Linked DNA regions of Homo sapiens: all the other regions are linked to region 2. The links come from fine-mapping of genetic effects on gene expression. A gene starts in region 2. Each other region holds a variant in brackets. All regions are shown on one strand. Distances are between the middles of the regions.

Region 1 (8,181 bases), 21 kb before region 2:
GGAAGAACTGGGGATCAGGACTTGCTCTGCCAGGTTCCAGGCACCAAAGGGGACTTTGGACATTTTTTTGGGGGGAGCTATTTTCCTGTGGTTGGACTGACTGAGAATCAGTGTTGGCCTGGACTGCCCCACCTGGAGTCAATGAACATCCTGGCTGATTTCAGGTCCCAGAGAACCTCCTTCAAAGAAGACACTGAAGAGTGTGGGTCCCAGAGGTGCAGAGCCCAGTTAAGTGCCAATTTTGCTCGGTCTAAGGAAGGACCACACCCTTTAACAATATCTATAGCTGACATTATCCAGTGCTTATGAACTGCCAATCATCATGTCCTCATTAATATTATTATTTTCACTTTACAGATGAGGAAACTGAGTTTCAGAGGTTAGTTCACTTATCTGAGGACACATCACATGAGGAGTGGGTATGGGACTCAGACATTCTGAGAATTCTCTAGGAAGTATGAGAGATAATCAACCACAGATTCAAGAAGCTCAGAGAATTCCAAAAGGATAACTTCTTTTCTTTCTTTTTCCTTTTTCTTTTTTTTTTTCGAGATGGAGTCTCACTCTCTCTCCCAGGCTGGAGGGCAATGTCATGATCTTGGCTCACTGCAACCTCTGCCTCCCGGGTTCAAGCGATTCTCCTGCCTCAACCTCCTGAGTAGCTGGAATTACAGGCACATGCCACCAGGCTTGGCTGATTTTTGTATTTTTACTAGAGACAGGGTTTCGCCATGTTGGCTAGGCTCATCTCAACTCCTGACCTAAAGTGATCGACCCACCTCGGCCTCCCAAAGTGTTGGGATTACAGGCATGAGCCACCGCACCTGGCCTCCAAAGGGATAACTTCTAAAAAGTGCATATAGACAAACATGAACACAAATATATACATACACACACACAAAGCCCTAGACACACAGTAGTCAAAACTGCTGAAAACCAAAGAAAAAAGAAAAGTTATGATTGTAGCTAGGCTAAAAGACACAAAAATGATACAATCTATGAAATTTTCCCAGCAATGCGTTTGATCACTGAAAGGTTCTCTGCAAATATTAGCTCACTTTTCCTTGCTGCATCATATTCTGTCTTTAAATTTTGAAGTTATACATGAGTTATACATGAACAACTTTGACTGCATTCTCTGAGAAAGGAGTTGTAAGAACAACTCCTACGTTGTCATAACCACACCTTTATCTCTGACAAATATCTTTACAAATTCATGTAACAAGAAACCTGGAAGGGAAAATGCACCAGAGGCTGGGTGTGGTGGCTCACGCCTGTAATCCCAGCACTTTCGGAGGCTGAGGTTGGCAGATCACTTGAGCTCAGGAGTTCGAGACCAGCCTGGGCAACATGGCGAAACCCCGTTTCTACCAAAAGTACAAAAATTAGCCAGGCATGGCGACATGTGCCTGTAGTCCCAAATACCTGGGAGGCTTAGGTGGGAAGATCGCTTGAGCCTGGGAGATTGAGTCTGCAACGAGCCATGATCGTGCCACTGCACTCCAGCCTGGGTGCCAGAGTGAGACCCTATCAAAAAAAGAAAGAAAGAGAGAGAGAGAATGCAACAGGTATCTCCAGGCACATTCTTGGGGAAGCTACTTTCCCCAGCAATATGGAGGGGAACTAAATTTGTGGAGAAAACCTGTGAGAGGCAAAGTGCCTTCTCAATATCTGTGTCATCTCCCCATGACATGCATTGATAATAACAGCAGAGATATTGCTGAGCAAGAAGGGAAACATTTGGCAGTTTACACAGGGGTGGACCTTTCCTTTTCTTTTCTTTTTTTGAGACAGTCTCACTCTGTCACCCAGGCTGGAGTGCAGTGGTGTGATCTCAGCTCTCTGCAGCCCCAACCTCCCAGGCTCAAGCAATCCACCCACCTCAGCCTCCTAAGTAGCTGGGACTACAGGCATGCACCACCATGCGTGGGCTGTGTGTGTGTGTGTGTGTGTGTGTGTGTGTGTGTGTGTGTATTTCTTTTTCTTTCTTTTTTTTTTAGACGGAGTCTTGCTCTGATGCCCAGGCTGGAGTGCAGTGGCTTGATCTTGGCTCACTGCAACCTCTGCCTCCTGGGTTCAAGTGATTCTCCTGCCTCAGCCTCCCAAGCAGCTAGGATTACAGGCACCCGCCACCATGCCCAGCTAATTTTTTGTATTTTTAGTAGAGATGGGGTTTCACCATGTTGCCCAGGCTAGTTTCTAACTACTGAGCTCAAGCAATCCACCCACCCCAGCTTCCTGAGTAGTTATGACTAGATGTCTGTACCACCATGCCTGGGCTTTTTTTTTTTTTTTTTTTTGTATTTCTTTTTGTAGAGATGGGGTTTTGCCATGTTGGCCAGGCTAGTCTCTAACTACTGAGGTCAAGCAACTTGCCAGCCTTAGGTTCCCAAAATGCTGGGATTACAGGTGTGTACCACTGCACCAGGTCAGGGGGTGGACATTTTCTATTATAGAAAGGGTGTGTCTTCTTCAATAAAAACCATCCTTGCCCTTATTAGTTACTGCAGACTACAGATGACACCAGAAAATGAATATACAAAGTCAGACACACAGGTTCATAGAAACCCACACCCAAGGTTGCTGTTGATCTGTCTGTATGCCACAGCCCTGAATTCAGTGTGGGTTCATGTGGAGTGACCCCCAAATCAGTGCATCAGCCCCATCAGGCTGCCAAATCCCAGTTACTCCCATGAAAGCAATGCCATACCAGTGGGTCACAGGTGCAAAGCTCAGAGCTATCTGGGTCTTCTGGTCAACCTCGGGTGTGAGTTCAAATGTTAAAATTTCAAACATGGAAGATACAAGAAGTAGGGCTGGCCCTGGCAGTTGCCAGGCACCAGAGGGGACATTGACATTTTTGCAGTAGGGACTTTCCTACTTTTGCTGAGCAGCCAATGTGAGTAGAAGCATGGGAATCAGTGGTTACCTCCCTAAGGCTTCCAAAGCACTGCTTTTGGATCCTGACAGCAGGTCCAGGTGTCTGGAGGATGCTGCGAGGGTGAGAGGAGGGTGCAGGGGAAGGAAGGGGATCCATCTCCTTCAGCACCAGGGACATTGACTGCCCTGGGATTCCTTGGCCTCCTAGGCTGCAGGGAACTCTGGCTCAGGTGCATCCCACACACTCCTGCAGTAGAAAGTCCAATGACCAGGCACCTTGCAGGGTCCTACAGAGTGGAGACCGGGGAGGATTACTGGTTATACACACAGATGGAATAAATGTTGCAAGTGAAATATGTAAACATATAAATAGTTATACATACATAAACAAGTACATGTTAAGCTGAAAAGTTATTCATGCTAGAGTTTATTTATGCAAATATGACAAATAGAGGCATATGCATTTATGCACTCTCCACCTCATTTCTGTGAAAATGTTGCAGACATACCTGGTGTTCTGTACCTCACTCTCTTAGCATC[G/A]TATTTGCCTCCCTTGATATGTGTGCACGTAAAGGAAGACACATTTTAAACAACCCCCCTCCTCATCAATTTTATGACTGGTTACATAAGGCCCATTGCCATTCAGTATCTACCTTCTAATATTCTGTAAACGAATAGGGTGTCTGTGCGTGTGTGTGTGCTGAGCTCTCCATGCTGGGAGGCATCTAAGTAGAGACTGTCAGGGATGCCGTAGCTGGGCTGTGCAGAGCTTACGTCTTCATTGGATGGGAGGCTGGGCTCCATGGGTTGTCCAGTTCCCAGCCCCAGAATAGCTGATGTCCTTCCCCAAAATCCACCTATGAGTCTGCCTTAACATCTGGCAGGAGTTCAAGGTTTCCTGTTGTTCTCCATGGAAAACTCTTCTAGATTCAGGCCAAGGCTCCCTGTGTCCAGGAGGTTGCTCTCCTAGCCATTACCCACAGCCAAAGAGAGCAGGTGGTGAGGACAGGCTGGACCTTTAGGGCCCTTCTCTCAGACAGCGCAAGGCCATGTTTCTGCCCCCTGTGGGATCCAGATCAGACCCCATATCCAGCTTACACAGCAATCGCAGTAACAGCAGGAACAGTGAGTTGCACTTGCTGAGCCCTTAGTCTGCCTTGTGTATTTTGCATGCATTGTCTGTTTTAGTTATTACCATGACCTTGTGAGGCGGGTGCTGCTGAAACGCCCATTTATAGACGTGAAGGAGCACAGCCCGGTGGTGAGGGTGGCACAATGTGAGACTGGGTGGGTAGTCTGGGGGTGTACAGCCTGGCTCCACCAGCTGTGTGACTGTGGGTGGTCACTTAAATATCTCCCGGACTTAATTTCTCATTTGTAAAATGCAAAACAAGGTGGTTAATATACTTAAAAGACTTAAAACAGGTTCCGTGACTCATGTTGGCAAATGTCAATGGCCCTAGTAGGAAGGACTGCATCTCGTGGGTTGAGTGCCAGCTCAGCCACAATAAATACAATACCAGGTAGATTTCTAAAGTTTTTGATGCCAGTCCCTGGCACACAGTACTAATAATACCAGTCGCTAGCAACTCTGGACCCACGCAGGGCATGGGGCAACTCGCTGCCCTGAAGGGAAGGACACAAGTCCAGCTGGCTTCACCACCTGCTGACTGCGGAGTCCCAGGGCCTTGAGTGAACTTAGGCAGTAGCCAGGTAGTGGTCATAGGAGGTTTTGTGTGGGATCCAGTGCTCTGCTGGTTTTAGGTCTAACCCAGCACAGCTCCAGTGCTGATGGCCACAGAGGTGCTTGTGTCAGTGCTTCCCCAACTCCTGGAGGCTTAGAACAGAGTGAGAGCAACTATGTTTGTTTCTGAGAAAGTAAGGGGGAAAAAATAAGTGTCTCTGCCTGGTAATCCAGAGAATTCTCTTAAATGTCATCTAAGACCATCAAGGTGGTACCTTTATGAGTCTGCAAGAACCACAGTGTTATTGGGCTTGGGGTGCCCCCTAATGCAGATACAGCGTATTTTATACCACCTAAGTCTGAATACCTGGAAGCCTTCCTAAGAAAGATGGGTACAAACAAACCCAGACTGAGAAGATTACAATAAACACCTAATTCTTCAATGACCGGACACAGATGAATATCTAGAAGCATCAAGACCATCCAGGAAAACATGACCTCACCAAAGGAACTAAATAAGTCACCAGAGACCGATCCAGGAGATACAGAGACGTGACCTTTCAGCAGAGAATTCTAAATAGCCGTTTTCAGAAAACTCACAGAAATTCAAGATAACATAGAAAAAAATTCAGATTTCTATTAGATAAATTTAACAAAGAGACTGAAATAATTTAAAAGAATCAAACAGAAATTCTGGCATTGAAAAAATGAAATTGACGCACTGAAGAATACACGAGTCTTTTAATAGAAGAATTGATCAAGGACAAGAAAGAATTAGTGAGCTTGAAGAAAGGCTATTTGAAAATGCACAGTCAGAGGAGACAAAAGAAAAAAAAATTTTAAATGAAGCATGCCTACAGAATATAGAAAATAGCCTCAAAAGGGCAAATCTAAGAGTTATTGGTCTTAAAGAGAAGGTGTAGAGAGAGATTGGGGTAGAGTGTTTATTCAAAGGGATAATAACAAAGAACTTCTCAGACCTAAAGAAAGATATCAATATTCAAGTAAAAGAAGGTTACAGAACACCCAGCACATTTAACCCAAAGTAGACTACCACAAGGCATTTAATAATCAAACTCTAAAAGGTTAAGGTTAAAGAAAGGATCCTAAAAGCAGCAAGAGAAAAGAAACAACATAAAATAGAGCTCCAACACATCTGGCAGTGGACTTTTCAGTAGAAACCTTGCAGGCCAGGAGAGAGTGACAGGACATATTTAAAGTGCTGAAGGAAAAATCTTTTACCCTAGAATAGTAAATTCAGTGAAAATGTTCTTCAAAGATGAAAGAGAAATAAAGCCTTTCCAAGACAGTCCTTACTTATCAATCATAACATGGAATGTAAATAAACTAAACTCTTCAATCAAAAGACATAGAGTGGCTCCGTGGATTAAAAAATAAAAAAGACCCAATGATTTGTTGCCTTCAAGAAGCACATTTCACTTGTAAAAACATACTTAGTCCAAGAATGATGGGATAGAAAAAGACACATCATGTCAATGGAAGTTTAAAAAGCATGGGAGTACCTATATTTATATCACACAATATAGATGTCAAGACAAAAACTATAAAAAGAGACAAGAAGGTTGTTGTCTCTTGGACCTAATTGATATTTACAGGACATTTCCTCCAATGGCTGCAGAATATACATTCTTTTCCTCAGCACATAGATCATTCTCAAGGAAACACCAGATGTTTGATTACAAAACACGTCTGAAAACATTCAAAAAACTGAAATAATATCAAGCATCTTCTCTGATCACAGTGGCCTAAAATGGAAAGAAATAATACAAGAAAATTTGGAAACTATACAAACACATGGGAATTAAACAAAATGCTCCAGAATGACCAGTTGGTCCACAAAGAAATTGAGAAGGAAATTGAAAAATTTTATTAAGCAAATGATAATGGAACCCCAATATATCAAAACCTATGGGATACAGTGAGAGCTATAAACGTTCCTCTTATTGCTGCTCTCACTGTATTCCATAGGTTTTGGTAAGCCAGGCACAGAAATACAAACATCACATGTTCTCAAATATTTGTGGGATCTAAAAATCAAAACAGTTGAACTCATGAAGTTGCCAGAGGCTGGGAAGGGTAGTGATGGGTGATTGGGGGAGCAGGGGCAGATGGTTAATGAGTACAAAAAGTAGTTAGAATGAATAACATTTGATATTTGATAGCACAACAGGGTGACTATATTCAATAATAATGTAATTGTACATTTTAAAATAACTAAAAGTATAGCAGGATTGTTTTTAACACAAAAGATACATGCTTGAGGGGGTGGATACCCCATTTGCATGGTATGATTATTATTTATTGCATTCCTGTATGAAAACATCTCAAGTGACCCATAAATATATACACGTACTATATACACACAGACACAAAATATGTTTTTTAAAGTGGCAAAAGATATGAACAGACATTACTCAGAAGAAGACATAGAAAAAGCAAACAGGCATATTAAAAGATCCTGAACATCATTGATTTAGCAGAGAAATGGAAATCAAAACTACAATAAGAAATCATCTTATCCCAGTAAAAATGGCTTCTATCCAAAAGATAGGAAATAACAAATGCTGGTGAGGATGAGGAGAAAAGGGAACCCTTGTACACTGTTGTTGGGGATGTAAGTTAGTACCACCACTATGGAGAACAGTTTGGAAGTCCCTCAAGAAATGAAAAAAACAGCTACCATAACATCCAGTAATCCCACTGCTGGGTATATTCCCCAAAGAAAAGAAATCAGTGTATCAAAGAGATACCTGCTGTCCTATATTTATTCCAGCACTATTCACAATAGCCAAGATTTGGAAGCAATCAAAGTGTCCATCAACAGTTGAATAGATAAAGAAAATGTGGTACATATACATGATGGAGTACTATTCAGAATGAGATTCTGTCATTTGTAACCACATGGATGGAACTTGAGGACAATATATTCAGTAAAATACGCCAGACACAGAAAGACAAACTTTGCATGGTATCACTTATTTGTGGAAGCTAAGAATTAAAACAATTGAACTTATGAAGATAGAAAGTAGAATGGGTAACAGAGGCTGTTAAGGGTAGTTGGGGCTTCCGGGGGAAGTGGGAATGGTTATTGGGTACTAAAAAATAGTAGGAATGAAGATTAAGACCTAGTAATTGCTAGCATAACAGAGTGACTATAGTAAGAAACGATTTAGTTAATTATTAATTAAAACGCATCAATTAAAATACAGAGATTGTCACAGGGGGTCAAAAAAATAAGACTCAGATATAAGTTTTTTTTTTAACAAGAAAACCCTGTAAATATAAAGGCATATATAAGTGAAAAGTAAACAGATGGAGAAAGATATACCATAGCAACATGAGTCAAAAGAAAGTGGAAGAAAAAGGTAACAAAGTGGTTAACACTCACAACAGCTTGGCTCTTGGAAAAATTTTTGATTTATTTGTATAGAAAGTTCTGCTTCTGTAGCACTTTCATAGGACACATTTAATGCCATTTCCATCATTAACTATGTCACTTCATCATCTGTGACCATATGCCCAGAGGGTCTCTCACTGGTTGCTATGGTGCAACCATAGCAGACATGCAACGATGAGAAGCACACATGCGAGTCTTG
Region 2 (8,181 bases):
CACCTAATTTCTGTGAAAATCTTGCAGACATACCTGCTGTTCTGTACCTCAATCCCTTAGCCTCATATCTTGCCTCCCTTGACATGTGTGTACATAGAGGAAGATGCATTTTAAATGATCCCCTTTCTCATTGATTTAGAACTGGTTGAGTTTGAGGCTCATTTCCGTAGAGTATCTACCCTCTAATATTCTGTAAAGCAGGGACCCCCAACCTCCAGGCAGCAGACTGGTACTGGTCTGTGGCCTGTTAGGGACTGTACCACACAGCAGAAGGTGAGCGGTGGGCAAATGAGCAAAACTTCTTCGGTATTTAGAGTCGCTCTACATCACTCGCATTACTGCCTGAGCTCAGTAATGCTCAGTCAGATCAGTAGCAGCATTAGATTCTCAAAGGAGTGCAAACCCTACTGTGAAATGCACATGCAGGGAATCTAGATTGTGTGCACCTTATGAAAATCTAATGCCTGATGATCTGTCACTGTCTCCCATCACCGCCACATGGGATCATCTAGTTGCAGGAAAACAAGCACAGGGCTCCCTGATTCTACATGACGGTGAGTTGTATAATTACCTCATAATATATTACAATGTAATAATAATAGAAATAAAGTGCACAATAAATGTGATGCACCTGAATCATCCTGAAACCATCTTTGCCTCTCCTCCCCCTGCTGCAACTTGTGGAAAAATTGTCTTCCACGAAACTGGTCCCTGGTGCCAAAAGGGTTGGGGACCACTGCTGTAAAGGCAGAGTGTGTGTGTGTGTGTGTGTGTGTGTGTGTGTGTGTGCTGAGGTCTCCATGTTGGGGGACATTCAAGCAGAGACTCTCATGGATGCAGTAGCTGGGCTGTGTAGAGCTCACTTCTTCACTAGATGGGAGGCTGGGCTCCACGGATTGTTCAGTTCCCAGAACCAGAACAGCTGGCATCTCCCCTGCAAGAATCCACCTGTGAGTCTGCCTTAACACCTAACAGGTGTTCAAATTTTCTGTTACTACTTCACCACAGATAACTCTTCTGGATTCAGGCCAAGCCTCCTGTGTCTAGGAGGTTGCTCCCCTAGCCATAATCTACAGCCAAAGAGAACACGTGGTGAGGACAGGCTGGACCTTTAGGTCCCTTCTCTAATACAGTGCAAGGCCATGTCTCTGCCCCCTGTGGGATCCAGGTCAAACCCCATATGCAGCTTACACAGCAACTGCAACAACAGCAGGAACAGTGAGTTGCACTTGCTGAACCTTTAGTCTGCCTTGTGCATTTTGCATGCATTGTCTTTTTAAGTATTATGACAACCATGTGAGGTGGGTGCTGCTGAAACGCCCATTTACAGACGTGAAGGAGCACGGCCCGGTGGTGAGGGTAGCACAATGTGAGGCTGGGTGGGAGGTCTGGGTGTATAGCCCGGCTCCACCAGCTGTGCAACTGTGGGTGGTCACTTAAGTATCTTCCAGGCTTAATGTTTCATTTGTAAAATGAAAAACAAGGTGACTAATATACTTAAAGGACTTAAAACAGGCTGTGTAGGTTATGTCGGCAAATGGTGGTGGCCACCATTCCTGCTCTAGGCTGCCTGCTCATCCCAGGCACACAGGTGGTCTACAGTGTGCCAAACCCCTCTAGCCACTGGGAGCGCTTTCTTCTGTGTCCCTATAACCCCGCCTGTTCATCAAACTCTGGCTTTGCTCCCTGAGCCTAACAGGGATGGAACTGCCAGTAGGTGAGGTCTGTCCTTGCAGAGGGAGTAGGGATTTTGGGGGATGCACCCTACCCCACTGAGGCTGTAGGGCCAGGAGCCTGAATCCCCTGGTTGATTGAGCTGGCAGTGGTGGTGGGGTGGGGGAGGCTTTGGGGCTCCCCAACACCCAGCCAGTGTCAGGAGCACTGTCTTCCCTGCCCTCCTGCTTAGCAGCTGTGCTAGGAGCCCCATCCTTCAAGCACCCCCTCACCCAAGTCCACCCGGCAGGGCAATTCTGGACAGGATACAAGGAGGGCCAGGAGGGGAGCCCTGGGTCTGCTGGGTGGAGCATCCGGGGTGTGGGAGGAGGAGCCAGGTGCTGATTCAAAGACCTCAAGATATTTCCCCTCTGGGACCATGACATTGCCTGAGATTCCTCCATTTATACATGTCCCTGTATTAATATGGCATTGACCCTAATGAATGGGTGCAGAACAGCATGGCAGAGGAAAAAGGTTTGGGCTTGAGGATCTCACAAACCTGGCTTCCTGTGAGCTCTGTAACTTGGGCTAGAGGCCTGCCCTCTCTGAGACTCAGTTTGCTCTTTTGTTAAATGGATGCATTCCCTTCTCTGGATGCCATCACTCAGGTCTCTCCAACAATCCCAGGGCTCTGGCTCAGAGAACCGAGGGGAGGTTGGTGTGAAGGCTTTGGGCATGGTGACGCGGGTGAGCATCTGACATGAGCAGGTGCACTTGACCTAGAGTAGGTGGAACACAGTAGGCATGCTTTACCTAGAGCCCCTGCCACATAGTAGGAGTGCTTTGTGGAGAGTGCCTTGCACACAGTAGGCATTCTTTATGTCAAGAACTTTACATAGAGTAGTTTTACTTTATGTGGAGCACTTGACACACAGAAAAAACACTTTATATAGAGCATCTGGCACACAGTAGGTGTGCATTATGTAGAGTACCGGCCACACAGAGTCAGAGTTTATGAAGAGTACCCAGCATCCAGAGTAGGCACGCTTTATGTAGAGCACTTGACACACAGAAAGAACACTTTATGTAGAGCATCTGGCATACAGTAGGTGTGCTTTATGTAGAGTACCGGACACATGGAGTCACAGTTTATGAAGAGTACCCAGCACCCAGAGTAGGCACGCTTTATGTAGAGCACTTGACACACAGTAGGTGCACTTGACATAGATCACCAGGCACGTAGTAAACATGCTCTACATAGAACATCTGACACACAGTAGGTGTGTTTTATATAGAGCAGCAGGTGCAGAGTAGGTACACTTTACATAAGTTACTCCGCACAAATTTCACTTTATATAGAGGACCGAGAACAAAGAAGCAAGATTTTCTGTAGAGCGCCCAGCACACAGTGGACACACTTTTCATAGAGCACTTGGCACACAGTACACAACATGTATACAGAGTACCTGGCACATGGTAGGTGTGCTTTATTTAGAGTCCAGTACACAGTAAAAGAACTTTGCATATTGTCTTTTGCAAAGAGCAGAGACTGACACACAGCAGCTAAAGTGCTAGCTGCCAGCCCCTTCCCTTCACTCCCTCCTCAGAATCTTTCATCTGTCCCCATCTAAGGCCCATTTTCCTGTGATCCCTCCTCTGTCCCCCTCTAAGGCCTTATCTGACATCCCATTTCCCAGATGGGAAGCCTGAGTCCAGGAGGGGCTCACTACCCACAGTTAGGGCAAGGGGAGGGCAGAATAAGGACTCCACTCAGGGTCCCCCATCTCTGCCCTCCTGTCCCTGGCCCCATCCACTCATGGCCCCTCTCAGCCTTACCTCCCATCTCCCCTCTCTGTCCTCCTATGCTGAACCTAGCCTCCAGGTATTCTCCTCCAGCGGGGCTCTTTATCTCTAAAATCTGACCGGGTAATCCCCAGCACAGTTAGATAGTTTGTTCCTACTCCTGTCAGTCATGTCTCGACCCAGGCCCTGGGTTGCCTGGAGGCAGGACTTGAACTCCTGCCAGACTGTGAAGCCAGAGGCCAGGAGCTTCTGTCTCTGAATCTCCTAAGTCTGCACTGAGAAATGGTGCATGATGAACTCCTGGACCACATGTGGAGAGGAGCTCAGAACATGATCTGGCACAATGGTTGGCCTGGCCCCACTCTCTTGCCACCTGAACTCTCAAGTTCATGACTTTATCTGCCACACTCTTGCCTTGGAAGGGCAAGGTGGCTGTAAACTTTGGGGCTCAGAGTCACCTTTGACTCTTCCTCAAGATCCCCTCCCACTCAGGTGTGAGATGTTGAGACCTGCGGATCCTGTGCCCATGCTGTGTCACCCTGAGCTGGCTCCTCTGCACCCAGCTGGCCCTACGCCAGGTTTTGGTTGGTTGCCCAGGCTTGGAAGACACACCCAGTCCATGGGGATTGGCTCGACCAGCCCAGCCCAGCCTCGCCTCCCACAGCCTTCCGGAAATCAGGGGCCAGAGGCAAAGACCTCCTAGCAGAGGGGGAGAGGAGGGTATGTGGGACAAGCTGCTTCTGATAGGAGCCAGGCTGGCAGTGGCAGGGCTGGAGGGTCCTGGCCTGGGATGGGGAGGGGACTGCCCAAGGTTGGGGTGGGTCAAGGCTGCTGGCCTGGGAGACTGGTGATTTCCTGGTAACTGGACCCCTGGCAACCTCCCAGTGATTCAGGCTGGGCCTTTTTGGATTCTAATCAGCCTCTCTCTCTCTTTCCCTTTCTGTGTAACTGGAGGCCACTTGGCTGCTGGTTTTCATTGGGCATTTCTGGACTTTAGATCTCAGCTCTTGTTTACCCATCTCAGAGCCTTCCCTGATCTGCCTCCAGCACTGCCCATCCTTGCCCCTTTCCACTGTCCTTGGAGCTTCCTGGGCCCTTCCCTGGGCCTCAGGATCCCACCCTCCATCCCGTCTGCCCTGCAGGATGCCGCAGCTGAGCCTGTCCTGGCTGGGCCTCGGGCCCGTGGCAGCATCCCCGTGGCTGCTTCTGCTGCTGGTTGGAGGCTCCTGGCTCCTGGCCCGCGTCCTGGCCTGGACCTACACCTTCTATGACAACTGCCGCCGCCTCCAGTGTTTTCCTCAACCCCCGAAACAGAACTGGTTTTGGGGACACCAGGGCCTGGTGAGTTTGTCAGCAGGACGGGTCTGGGGTCTCAGGATGCATGGAGTTCCTGAGGGGCAGGAATGGGGCTCAGGGAGCTGGGTTTTGAGGGTGGCTGGGGTGTGGGAACACAGAGAAGAGAGGGAGGCAGCTCACTCATTCCTCTGCCCACTCACTCATTCCTCTCCCCGCTCACTCATTCCTCTGCCCACTCACTCATTCCTCTGCCCACTCACTCATTCCTCTCCCCGCTCACTCATTCCTCTCCCCGCTCACTCATTCCTCTCCCCGCTCACTCATTCCTCTCCCCGCTCACTCATTCCTCTGCCCACTCACTCATTCCTCTTCTCGCTCACTCATTCCTCTGCTCACTCACTCATTCCTCTCCTCACTCACTCATTCTTCTCCTCACTCACTCATTCTTCTCCTCACTCACTCATTCCTCTGCTCACTCACTCATTCCTCTCCTCACTCACTCATTCTTCTCCTCACTCACTCATTCCTCTCCTCACTCACTCATTCTTCTCCTCACTCACTCATTCTTCTCCTCACTCACTCATTCCTCTCCTCACTCACTCATTCTTCTCCTCACTCACTCATTCCTCTCCTCACTCACTCATTCTTCTCCTCACTCACTCATTCTTCTCCTCACTCACTCATTCCTCTCCTCACTCACTCATTCTTCTCCTCACTCACTCATTCCTCTCCTCACTCACTCATTCTTCTCCTCACTCACTCATTCCTCTCCTCACTCACTCATTCTTCTCCTCACTCACTCATTCCTCTCCTCACTCACTCATTCTTCTCCTCACTCACTCATTCCTCTCCTCACTCACTCATTCCTCTCCTCACTCACTCATTCCTCTCCTCACTCACTCATTCTTCTCCTCACTCACTCATTCTTCTCCTCACTCACTCATTCCTCTCCTCACTCACTCATTCCTCTCCTCACTCACTCATTCCTCTCCTCGCTCACTCATTCCTCTCCCCGCTCACTCATTCCTCTCCTCACTCACTCATTCCTCTCCTCACTCACTCATTCCTCTCCTCACTCACTCATTCCTCTCCCCACTCACTCATTCCTCTCCCCGCTCACTCATTCCTCTCCTCGCTCACTCATTCCTCTCCTCACTCACTCATTCTTCTCCTCACTCACTCATTCCTCTCCTCACTCACTCATTCCTCTCCTCACTCACTCATTCCTCTCCTCACTCACTCATTCCTCTCCTCACTCACTCATTCCTCTCCTCACTCACTCATTCCTCTCCTCACTCACTCATTCTTCTCCTCACTCACTCATTCCTCTCCTCACTCACTCATTCCTCTCCTCACTCACTCATTCCTCTCCTCACTCACTCATTCCTCTCCTCACTCACTCATTCCTCTCCTCACTCACTCATTCCTCTCCTCACTCACTCATTCCTCTCCTCACTCACTCATTCCTCTCCTCACTCACTCATTCCTCTCCTCACTCACTCATTCCTCTCCTCACTCACTCATTCCTCTCCTCACTCACTCATTCCTCTCCTCACTCACTCATTCCTCTCCTCACTCACTCATTCCTCTCCTCACTCACTCATTCCTCTCCTCACTCACTCATTCCTCTCCTCACTCACTCATTCCTCTCCTCACTCACTCATTCCTCTCCTCACTCACTCATTCCTCTCCTCACTCACTCATTCTTCTCCTCACTCACTCATTCTTCTCCTCACTCACTCATTCCTCTCCTCACTCACTCATTCCTCTCCTCACTCACTCATTCCTCTCCCCGCTCACTCATTCCTCTCCCCGCTCACTCATTCCTCTCCTCGCTCACTCATTCCTCTCCTCACTCACTCATTCCTCTCCCCGCTCACTCATTCCTCTCCCCGCTCACTCATTCCTCTCCTCGCTCACTCATTCCTCTCCTCGCTCACTCATTCCTCTCCTCGCTCACTCATTCCTCTCCTCACTCACTCATTCCTCTCCCCACTCACTCATTCCTCTCCCCGCTCACTCATTCCTCTCCTCGCTCACTCATTCCTCTCCTCGCTCACTCATTCCTCTCCTCACTCACTCATTCCTCTCCTCACTCACTCATTCTTCTCCTCACTCACTCATTCCTCTCCTCACTCACTCATTCTTCTCCTCACTCACTCATTCCTCTCCTCACTCACTCATTCTTCTCCTCACTCACTCATTCCTCTCCTCACTCACTCATTCTTCTCCTCACTCACTCATTCCTCTCCTCACTCACTCATTCCTCTCCTCACTCACTCATTCCTCTCCTCACTCACTCATTCCTCTCCTCACTCACTCATTCCTCTCCTCACTCACTCATTCCTCTCCTCACTCACTCATTCCTCTCCTCACTCACTCATTCCTCTCCTCACTCACTCATTCCTCTCCTCACTCACTCATTCCTCTCCTCACTCACTCATTCCTCTCCTCACTCACTCATTCCTCTCCTCACTCACTCATTCCTCTCCTCACTCACTCATTCCTCTCCTCACTCACTCATTCCTCTCCTCGCTCACTCATTCCTCTCCTCGCTCACTCATTCCTCTCCTCGCTCACTCATTCCTCTCCTCGCTCACTCATTCCTCTCCTCGCTCACTCATTCCTCTCCTCGCTCACTCATTCCTCTCCTCACTCACTCATTCCTCTCCTCGCTCACTCATTCCTCTCCTCGCTCACTCATTCCTCTCCCCGCTCACTCATTCCTCTGATGTGCCATCCCAAGTCTTTCTCACCTCCCTGTCCTCCCACTCCAGCCTGCTTGGATCTTTTTCCTGCCTGTCTTCCCTGTGTTACTGCACCTCTGAGGGTCTCCTGTGGGAGTGGTATGGGTGCACAGAGCAAAGATCTCCTGGCATTTGCACCTTCTCCACTGCTGGACTTGAGGCCTCCTGAGTCTACTGTCCAGGGACTACTCCCTGCCTGGCCCATTTGCTTGTGTCTGCCCATCTCTGTGCTGCTGCTTTCTCACAGGAATTAGCTCTGAGCCCCTTTCCATACGCAGGGACACAGAGGGTCCAGAAGAGAAGTGTGGGCAGTCTCCCGCTGCCTCCTTTTCTGGAGGCACCTTCCTCCTATCTTGCTCTTCCTCACTAACATGTCCCAGTCGGCCTTGTTACCTGCCTGAATAAAAGTTGGCCACTCCCTTCTCTTTTCAGAAGCTGTCCTTGACTCCGCAGACCTTGGCCTCCGACTTAGACCTGCTCTCCCATTTGGGGGACATGGCCTTGGTCTGCTCACTTGTAAATGGCAAAATTGATGGGCGTGTCCATCGGTGCAGTGGAGGGTGAATAGGACACACTAGCACAGAGCCTGGCCTGCAGGAGGTGCTTACTGTAGACAGTTAAGAGTCACTCCTCTACGCCTGGGGGCTGCTGAGAATGGAATGTCCCCAGTGTGGGAGGA
Region 3 (8,181 bases), 38 kb after region 2:
CTTTGAAGGATACAGTTTCATTTCGAGGAATGGAGAATATCTGTGCAAAGTTGGGGCAGTTCAGAGCAGAGTGAGCTGCAGACTGTTCTGCAGGTATGGGGCTGGAAGTCTTCACACGACCTCATAGTCCTGGCACCCAAACTTACTCAGACAATGGTGTGTCCGGAATTGGTGGGTTCTTGGTCTCACTGACTTCAAGAATGAAGCCGCGGACCCTCGCGGTGAGTGTTACAGCTCTTAAGGTGGCGCGTCTGGAGTTTGTTCTTTCTGATGTTCAGATGTGTTCGGAGTTTCTTCCTTCTGGTGGGTTCGTGGTCTCGCTGGCTCAGGAGTGAAGCTGCAGACTTTCGCGGTGAGTGTTACAGCTCATAAAAGCAGTGTGAACCTAAAGAGTGAGCAGCAGCAAGATTTATTGCAAAGAGTGAAAGAACAAAGCTTCCACAATGTGGAAGGGGGCCTGAGCGGGTTGCCACTGCTGGCTCGGGCAGCCTGCTTTTATTCTCTTATCTGGCCCTACCTATGTCCTGCTGATTGGTAGAGCCAAGTGGTCTGTTTTGACAGGGCGCTGATTGGTGCGTTCACAATCCTTGAGCTAGACACAAAGGTTCTCCACGTCCCCACCAGACTCAGAAGCCCAGCTGGCTTCACCCAGTGGATCCCGCACCGGGGCTGCAGGTGGAGCTGCCTGCCAGTCCCGCGCCGTGCGCTCGCACTCCTCAGCCCTTGGGTGGTCGATGGGACTGGGCGCCCTGGAGCAGGGGGCGGCGCTCATCGGGGAGGCTCGGGCTGCACAGGAACCTACGGAGGCCGGGGGCTCAGGCATGGCGGGCTGCAGGTCCTGGGCCCTGCCCCGCGGGAAGGCAGCTAAGGCCCGGCGAGAAATCGAGCGCAGCGCCGGTGGGCTGGCACTGCTGGGGGACCGAGTACACCTTCCCGAGCAGCCGCTGGCCCGGGTGCTAAGCCCCTCATTGCCCGGGGCTGGCAGGGCCGGCCGGCTGCTCCGAGTGCGGGGCCTGCCAAGCCTACGCCCACCTGGAACTCTAGCTGGCCCGCAAGTGCCGCGCGCAGCCCCGGTTCGTACTCGCGCCTCTCCCTCCATACCTCCCTGCAAGCTGAGGGAGCCGGCTCTGGCCTTGGCCAGCCTAGAAAGGGGCTCCTACACCTATAAGTGAGAATATGCGGTGTTTGGTTTTTTGTTCTTGCGATAGTTTACTGAGAATGATGATTTCCAATTTCATCCATGTCCCTACACAATGAGAACATATGGACACAGGAAGGGGAACATCACACTCTGGGGACTGTTGTGGGGTGGGGGGAGGGGGGAGGGATAGCATTGGGAGATATACCTAATGCTAGATGACGAGTTAGTGGGTGCAGCGCACCAGCATGGCACATGTATACATATGTAACTAACCTGCACATTGTGCGCATGTACCCTAAAACTTAAAGTATAATAATAATAATAAAAAAATCCAAAAAAAAAGAAAAGAAGAGAAAAGAAAGGGGCTCCCACAGTGCAGCGGTGGGCTGAAGGGCTCCTCAAGTGCCGCCAAAGTGGGAGCCCAGGCAGAGGAGGCGCCGAGAGCGAGTGAGGGCTGTGAGGACTGCCAGCATGCTGTCACCTCTCAGTGGGAGCAGGTGTGACAAGAGTTGGGCAAATCAGACCTTTAATCCACCCTGATAGGCTGGAGTGTGGGCTTATGGCATTTCTCCTTTGACCCAATTAACCTCCACTCCCAATGTATCTCTGTGCAGAAGGCTCAGCTAGGTGTATCAGCCATTGTAAATCCTCAACATAAATTATAATTTAACCTAGAATACAGAGACTAGGTAGCAGGAGGAGAGGAAATGTAGAGATACTAATCTCTTCTCCCTTATCAGAAAGAAACCTAGCATAAGAAATTTCACGCTTAATGGGCCAAAGAGTAAATCAGAAAACTCCATGGGTGATGGTATGCTCATGGTGGTGGTGGTGGTGATGGGGAATTATTTGCCCTCCTGTGACCTCCCTTGGATTAATTTCTCCCCAGGACAATGGGAAAAATCATTTAATCCTTGGAGTTTTTTTTTTTTTTTTTTTTTTTTTTTTTTTTTTTTTTGCTTGAGAGTGACTCTGATCCTGTTTCTGATGGTCATGTTCCTCAGCATCATACTGAGTAAGTCACTGGCCTTGTAGCATCTGGAGTGATTGGAGTGATCCAAGATCCCTAGTTCCCATGTCACAAATGAGGATCCCACATATCTGGGACAGAGATGGAACATTATTTCTGGGTGTGTCTATCTAATCTATTCATCCTATCTATCTAATTTCTCATCTATATATATATTTGCCTACCCATCCATCCATCAATCCATCTTAGCTGTACGTTTATCCATTCCATCTATTTATCCTATTATCTATGTATCTATCTATCATCTATTAATAGCTATCTATCCATCTGTCTAATATATCCATTATCTATATCTACTTTATCTATCTACCTAATGTATCCATCCTATCTACTCTATCTATCTGTGCATCTACCCATCCATCTGGACCCTGAGCTGATTCCTCTGCACCCAGCTGGCCTGACGCCAGGTGTTGATTGGCTGCCCAGGCTCAGGAGACACATCCAGGCTGCAGGGATTGGTTGGCCCAGCCCAACCCAGCCAGCCCTCCCACAGCCTTTGCTATATCAAGGGCCAGGGTCAAAGGCCTCCCAGCAGACAGAGAGAGGAGGTTGTCTGGGACAGACTGCTCCTGACAGAAGGTGCCAGGCTGGGGGTGGCAGGCCTGGGGGGGGTCCTGGCCTGGGATGGAGAGGGGCACTGCCCAAGGCCCACGCAGCTCCTGGGTGCTGGCCTGGAGGATGGGTGGTTTCCGAGTAACTGAAACCAAGCCCCTGGCAACCTCACAGTGATTCAGGCTGGGCCTTTCTGGACTTTAATCAGTCTCTCTCTCTCTTTCCCATTCTAAGTGCTTACTAGGGAACTGGAGGCCACTTGGCTGCTGGTTTTGGTTGGGCCTTTCTGGACTTTACCTCTCAGCCCCTTTTTACCCATCCCTGAGCCCTCCCTGCTCTACCTCCGGCACTGCCCGTCCCTGCCTCTCCACTGTCCCTGGAGGTCCCTGGGCCGTTCTCTGGGCCTCAGGATCTCACCGTCCATCCCGTCTGCCCTGCAGGATGTCCCAGCTGAGCCTGTCCTGGCTGGGCCTCTGGCCAGTGGCAGCATCCCCTTGGCTGCTCCTCCTGCTGGTCGGGGCCTCCTGGCTCCTGGCCCATGTCCTGGCCTGGACCTACGCCTTCTATGACAACTGCCGCCGCCTTCGGTGTTTCCCACAACCCCCAAGACGGAACTGGTTTTGGGGACACCAGGGCATGGTGAGTGTGGCAGCAGGATGGGTCTAGGTCTCAGGATGGATGGACTTCCTGAGGGGTACGAGGCTTAGGGAGTGGGGGTGAAGGGGTGGGCTGGGATCTGGGGTGGCAGAGAAGCAGAGGAGGCATCTTACTCATTCCTCTGCTTATTCATTTCTGTGAGGTGCCTACGCAAGCCCTTCTCACTTCCTTGTCCTCCCACTCCAGGCCTGCATTGAATCCTTTTCCTGCCTGTCTTCCCACATTAATGCACCTCTGCGGGGCTCCTGGGCAGAGGGTTGGCTGCACAGAGAGGCGAGTCCCTGGCATTCCCACATTCTCCATTGCTGGACTCGAGGCTTCTTATGCCCACTGTCCAGGGTCCTCTCCTTGCCTGGACTATTTCCTGTTATGAGGGTACAGCTGGGCCAGAGGAGAGGCATGGGCCGTCTCCCACTTCCACTACACCCGAAGGCACCTTTCTCTTATATTCTTCTTCTTATCTCCCTCTTATCAATGAGACCTGTTGCCAAACCCAGATAAAAGTTGGCCACTCACTTCACCTTTCAGAAGCTTTCCTTGGCCTTTCTCCTCCCCGTGACCTTGCCCTCTGACTTAGACCGCTCTCCTCTTTGGGGAATGTGGTCTTAGTCTGCTCATTTGCAAATGGCAGGATTGATGGATGTGTCCACAGATAAAGTGGAAGGGTGCACAGGACACACTAGCACAGAGCCTGCTGCAGAAGCTGCTCCCAGGTGGGAGCCATTGTCCTGATGGACAGTTAGAGTCACCTCTGCTCCACTAGTGGCTGCTGAAAAGGGAAGGTCTCCCATGTGCAGAACCTTCTCCATGGGAGGAACTGGAGCCTCTGTGGATCAGCCAGGACATGAAGGCATGTGGGGACCAGCCTTAGGGACATGTCCTGAGGCGATACTGCTCCCCACAAATCTCCCCTGTGAGGACCTCCCCATATAGCTGCCTCTGGGCTGAAATGACTCCCAGAAAAAGAAAATCCTTCCTCTCAAGATAACTGGGCCTCTGTGAGTGGACAGTGCGTCTTCTCCCTCTGCCCTGGGATGCACCCTTGGGACTTGGAGATGGACCCAAGAGAGATAGAGCAGGAGGAATGTGGATAGATAGATAGATAGAGCAGGAGGAATGTAGATAGATAGATAGATAGATAGATAGATAGATAGATAGATAGCTAATAGGATAGATAGATAGATGCACAGATAGGATGGATAGATGGATGGATGGATGGATGGACAGGCACGTAGGTAGATAGATAATAGAATAGATGGATGCATGGACACATGGATGCACAGATAGCATGGATGGATGGATGGATGGATGGATGGATGGATGGATA[G/TGG]ATAGATAGACAAATAATAGGACATATGGATGCATGGACACACGGATGCACAGATAGGATGGATGGATGGATGGATGATGGATGGATGGGTAGATAGAGTAGATAGGATGGATAGATTATGTAGACAGATGGAGTAGATATATATGATGGATAGATTAGACGGATAGATGGCTATTAATAGATGATAAGCAGACAGACAGATGAATATATGGATGGATGAAAGCACAGATAAAATGGATTGATGGATAGATGGGTAGGCAGATAGATATATAGATAGAAAAATTAGATAGATAGGATGAATAGATTAGACACACCCAGAAATAATGTTTGACCAACTACCTGGGCATCCCTTAGCCCAGTCAAGTAGACACCTAGAATTAACTATCACAGAAGGTAATGACCCCTGCCTTGCTTGCAGGTCAACCCCACAGAGGAGGGCATGAGAGTTCTGACTCAGCTGGTGGCCACCTACCCCCAGGGCTTTAAGGTCTGGATGGGACCCATCTCCCCCCTCCTCAGTTTGTGCCACCCCGACATCATCCGGTCTGTCATCAACGCCTCAGGTACCATCTGGAACAGCTGGTGGGGCAGTGCATTTGAGGCCTGCACTTCCGCTATCCCCAAGCTCCTGTGTGGGCCCTGCAGTACTCTGGCCTCTCCTTTCCTTCCCTCTCAGCTATCTTCATCTTTCTTTCATGTATTCATCAATTTCCATCTCAGCGTCTCCTCTCTCTATTGCCATCTACCCCCTGTTCTGGTGTTCTGGGCTGCCCTGGAACCCTAAGAGACCTCAACCCAAGGCCCAGTCCTGGAGGAACCCCCAACTTTAAGGAGATGGACCTGGATAGAGATATCCCCAACTTCATGGGATCAGGAAAGGGCCAGAGGGAGATGGATCACAGCCCAGGGAAGAACAAGGTCTCTGCTGGGGCAGGCTGGAAGGCTTCCTAGAGGAGGAGTTACTGGAGCTGTGTCTGGAACAATGAGTAGGAATGTTTGAAAGGAGAGTGCAGGGTGAGGCAATTGGACATCGTTAGTATTCAAGGCCCCTTGCCAGGCCTAGCATCACCTTGCCTGTCCCAAAGCCTAGAACAATGAGGAGGACTTGTGGCTGGTGGGGGATCTGGGCTGCTACTTCCATGATGTCCACCTCTGGTGGGTCAATTCCCTTTACCCCATCCTATAGCTTGTCTGCCCTAAGTTCGTTGCTCTCCTGCTGCAGGTCCCGGGGATCTCCAAGAGGAGACTCCACCCCAGCTTGGGTCCCTTTCCTTGACCCCTGTGCTTCCCATCGTTGGACGGGCGAGGCTGAGCAGGGGGAATGGGCAGCATCCTACAGAGACCATGGCTCTGACCTCAAAATGCTGAGTGACTCTGGGCTGGTACCCAGCTGTCTCTGGTTATTGAAGTCTCTTTCAGTTGTGAGTGGTGGAAACCCAACCTGGTGTGGTCTAAGCAAAGAAAGATAATCTATTGACTTTAAAGTCCAGGGAGGGTGGCCTTCAGGCATGGCTGGATCCAGGTCTCACACAAGGTCACTGGAAATCTGTCTTTCTCTCTTGGCTTTAGCTTTCTCCATGTCGCTTTTCCTATCAAGGTGGCCTTTTCCTCATGATGTCAACGATGAGTCCCAGAAGCTCAGTTCTTATGGGAAAGGCCACCTTTCCCCTAGAGTTCCCAGAAATGGCCCATGGTTTACTTCTCCTGGCCTGGATCACAGGACCAATTTTTCACCCAATCCCTGTGTCTCTGATTGCCCAGTCTTGGTAGGCCTGGGTCTTCCAGAGCTACTGTTTTGGGGGCACAAAGAAGTTTGTTGGTTAAGGATTCAGGCCATGGGTGCAGACAGACCTAGTCTTAGGCCTCAGGCTTGCCGTGGTCTGGGACTGTGGGCAAGTGACTTTATTGTTCAGAGCCTCAGGCTCTTCATCTGGAAAATGGGATGAATGAGAGCCCAGGGAACATGGTGTGTGGATCCACATGGGGAAAGACCTTTTCTGTCTGTGTAACTGAAGGACTGGAGAGTCCTGCATGGAGGATGTGAGGAGGCAGGGGGTGCTCAGCACTGACAGGAGGATGAGATGCTGCTTGAAATTCTCAGGGAGAGGGCTTCGACCTCTTCCCTGCAGATCCTTCTCTCTCACAGCCTAGGAGAGCATGAATTGGGTCCTGTGTGTTTTTCTCCAGATTCACAGCTCAGAAGAAGGTCTCCTATACACACAAAGCCTGGCGTGCACCTTTGGGGATATGGGCTGCTGGTGGGTGGGGCCCTGGCAGGCAGTCATCCACATCTTTCTCCCCACGTGCATCAAGCCTGTGCTCTTTGCTCCAGGTAGACATCGCACTGGCCAAGCTTTGCCCACAGCTGGGGTTGCTGTGCTGCCTCCAGCTGAACACGTGACCGATGTGCAGACAGGAGGGGCTGTGGTGGAGATGCCATTGCCTCCATCGCCCCTGGACTTCCACCTGTCTAACCTCTGTTGCTGTTTGCTCATGTCTGGGGCGTGTCTCTACAATGGCTGTTATATGGCCAGGTCTGCCTTGTATATTTACACCTGGGTCCTGGTTACACCTGAAATATGTTATACCTGGTTACATCTGGTATATAATTCCAACTGGGGTCATGTAGAGCTGGTCAAGTTTGGGGCTTATCTGTGGCCAAGGACATTTGGGGCATGTGAGGGCCTGTTTGGTTCTTGTCTCAGGTGCTGTTTGACACTGCCGTTTTCTCCTGGTGGTCCAAACATCTGGGCGTTGTGTGAGGTCTGGGGGTTGTGTGAGGTCTGGGACCCAGGGTCCCTATGTGAACTGTCTGAGACATTATTTGAGTCTTGTCTGAGGCATGTGTTATAGTATATTTGGGTCATGCCTGAGGAACAGTCTGGTTCACATGTTGGCTATGTCTGTGACATTAAAGGTACCATATTTATATTCAACCCAGAGCCTGTATGTGGAACACGCTTTTAAGATCATGTTAGACCATCTCATGTGCATGTTAGAGCACACCATCTCATGTTAGGAATTGTCATGTATTTTGTGGCCATGTCAGGACATGTGAACACATGTCAGGGTCATGTCTCATGTCCAGGTCCATGTCAGAAGATGCCATATCAGAAGATGTCAGAGAGTGCTGGGACAGACAGGGTGTCCTAGGTCCTTGTGAAGCATTCTGTAGAATGCTGAGCTGTGCTCAGGGGTTGCGGAACATGTTGGATCGTGTAGGAGGCATGTCAAGGCATGCTGGAACCCTGACATAGCTCCTACACGCCATGTTAGGCAGTGTCATTGCTGTACTGTGCTGCTGTAGCCTGGTCTGGTCTTCCCTCCCCTCCCCATCCTCCCTTCTTCCTCTGCCCTTGGCCCTCTTCCTGCTATGTGGGGCTCAGAGTGGGAGAAGTGCAAACCTCTTGCTGGGAGCCTCCACCCACCCCCAAAGTCCCTCTTTCACCTGCCTCCATGGCCCCTGATTGTCCT

What was found. PIP is the estimated chance that this variant, and not a neighbour inherited with it, causes the effect.
Region 1: its variant is fine-mapped to the expression of CYP4F11 in left ventricle (GTEx, PIP above 0.99).
Region 3: its variant is fine-mapped to the expression of CYP4F11 in unexposed skin (GTEx, PIP above 0.99).

Annotation. Positions count from the first base shown.
Region 1 is chr19:15,951,342-15,959,522 of GRCh38, reverse strand. No RefSeq gene overlaps it. Among named protein-coding and RNA genes, the nearest start is that of OR10H4, 6.4 kb to the right of the region's middle. The variant G/A (reference allele first, on the strand shown) is at 3,421.
Region 2 is chr19:15,930,830-15,939,010 of GRCh38, reverse strand. CYP4F11 (cytochrome P450 family 4 subfamily F member 11) reads left to right here and starts at 4,482. Exons shown (of 12, transcript NM_021187.4): 1 at 4,482-4,800. The coding sequence starts at 4,603.
Region 3 is chr19:15,892,595-15,900,775 of GRCh38, reverse strand. It overlaps CYP4F2 (cytochrome P450 family 4 subfamily F member 2), which reads left to right and starts at 2,702. Exons shown (of 13, transcript NM_001082.5): 1 at 2,702-2,750; 2 at 3,164-3,362; 3 at 5,126-5,270. The coding sequence starts at 3,165. RefSeq lists an enhancer at 7,491-8,181. The variant G/TGG (reference allele first, on the strand shown) is at 4,708.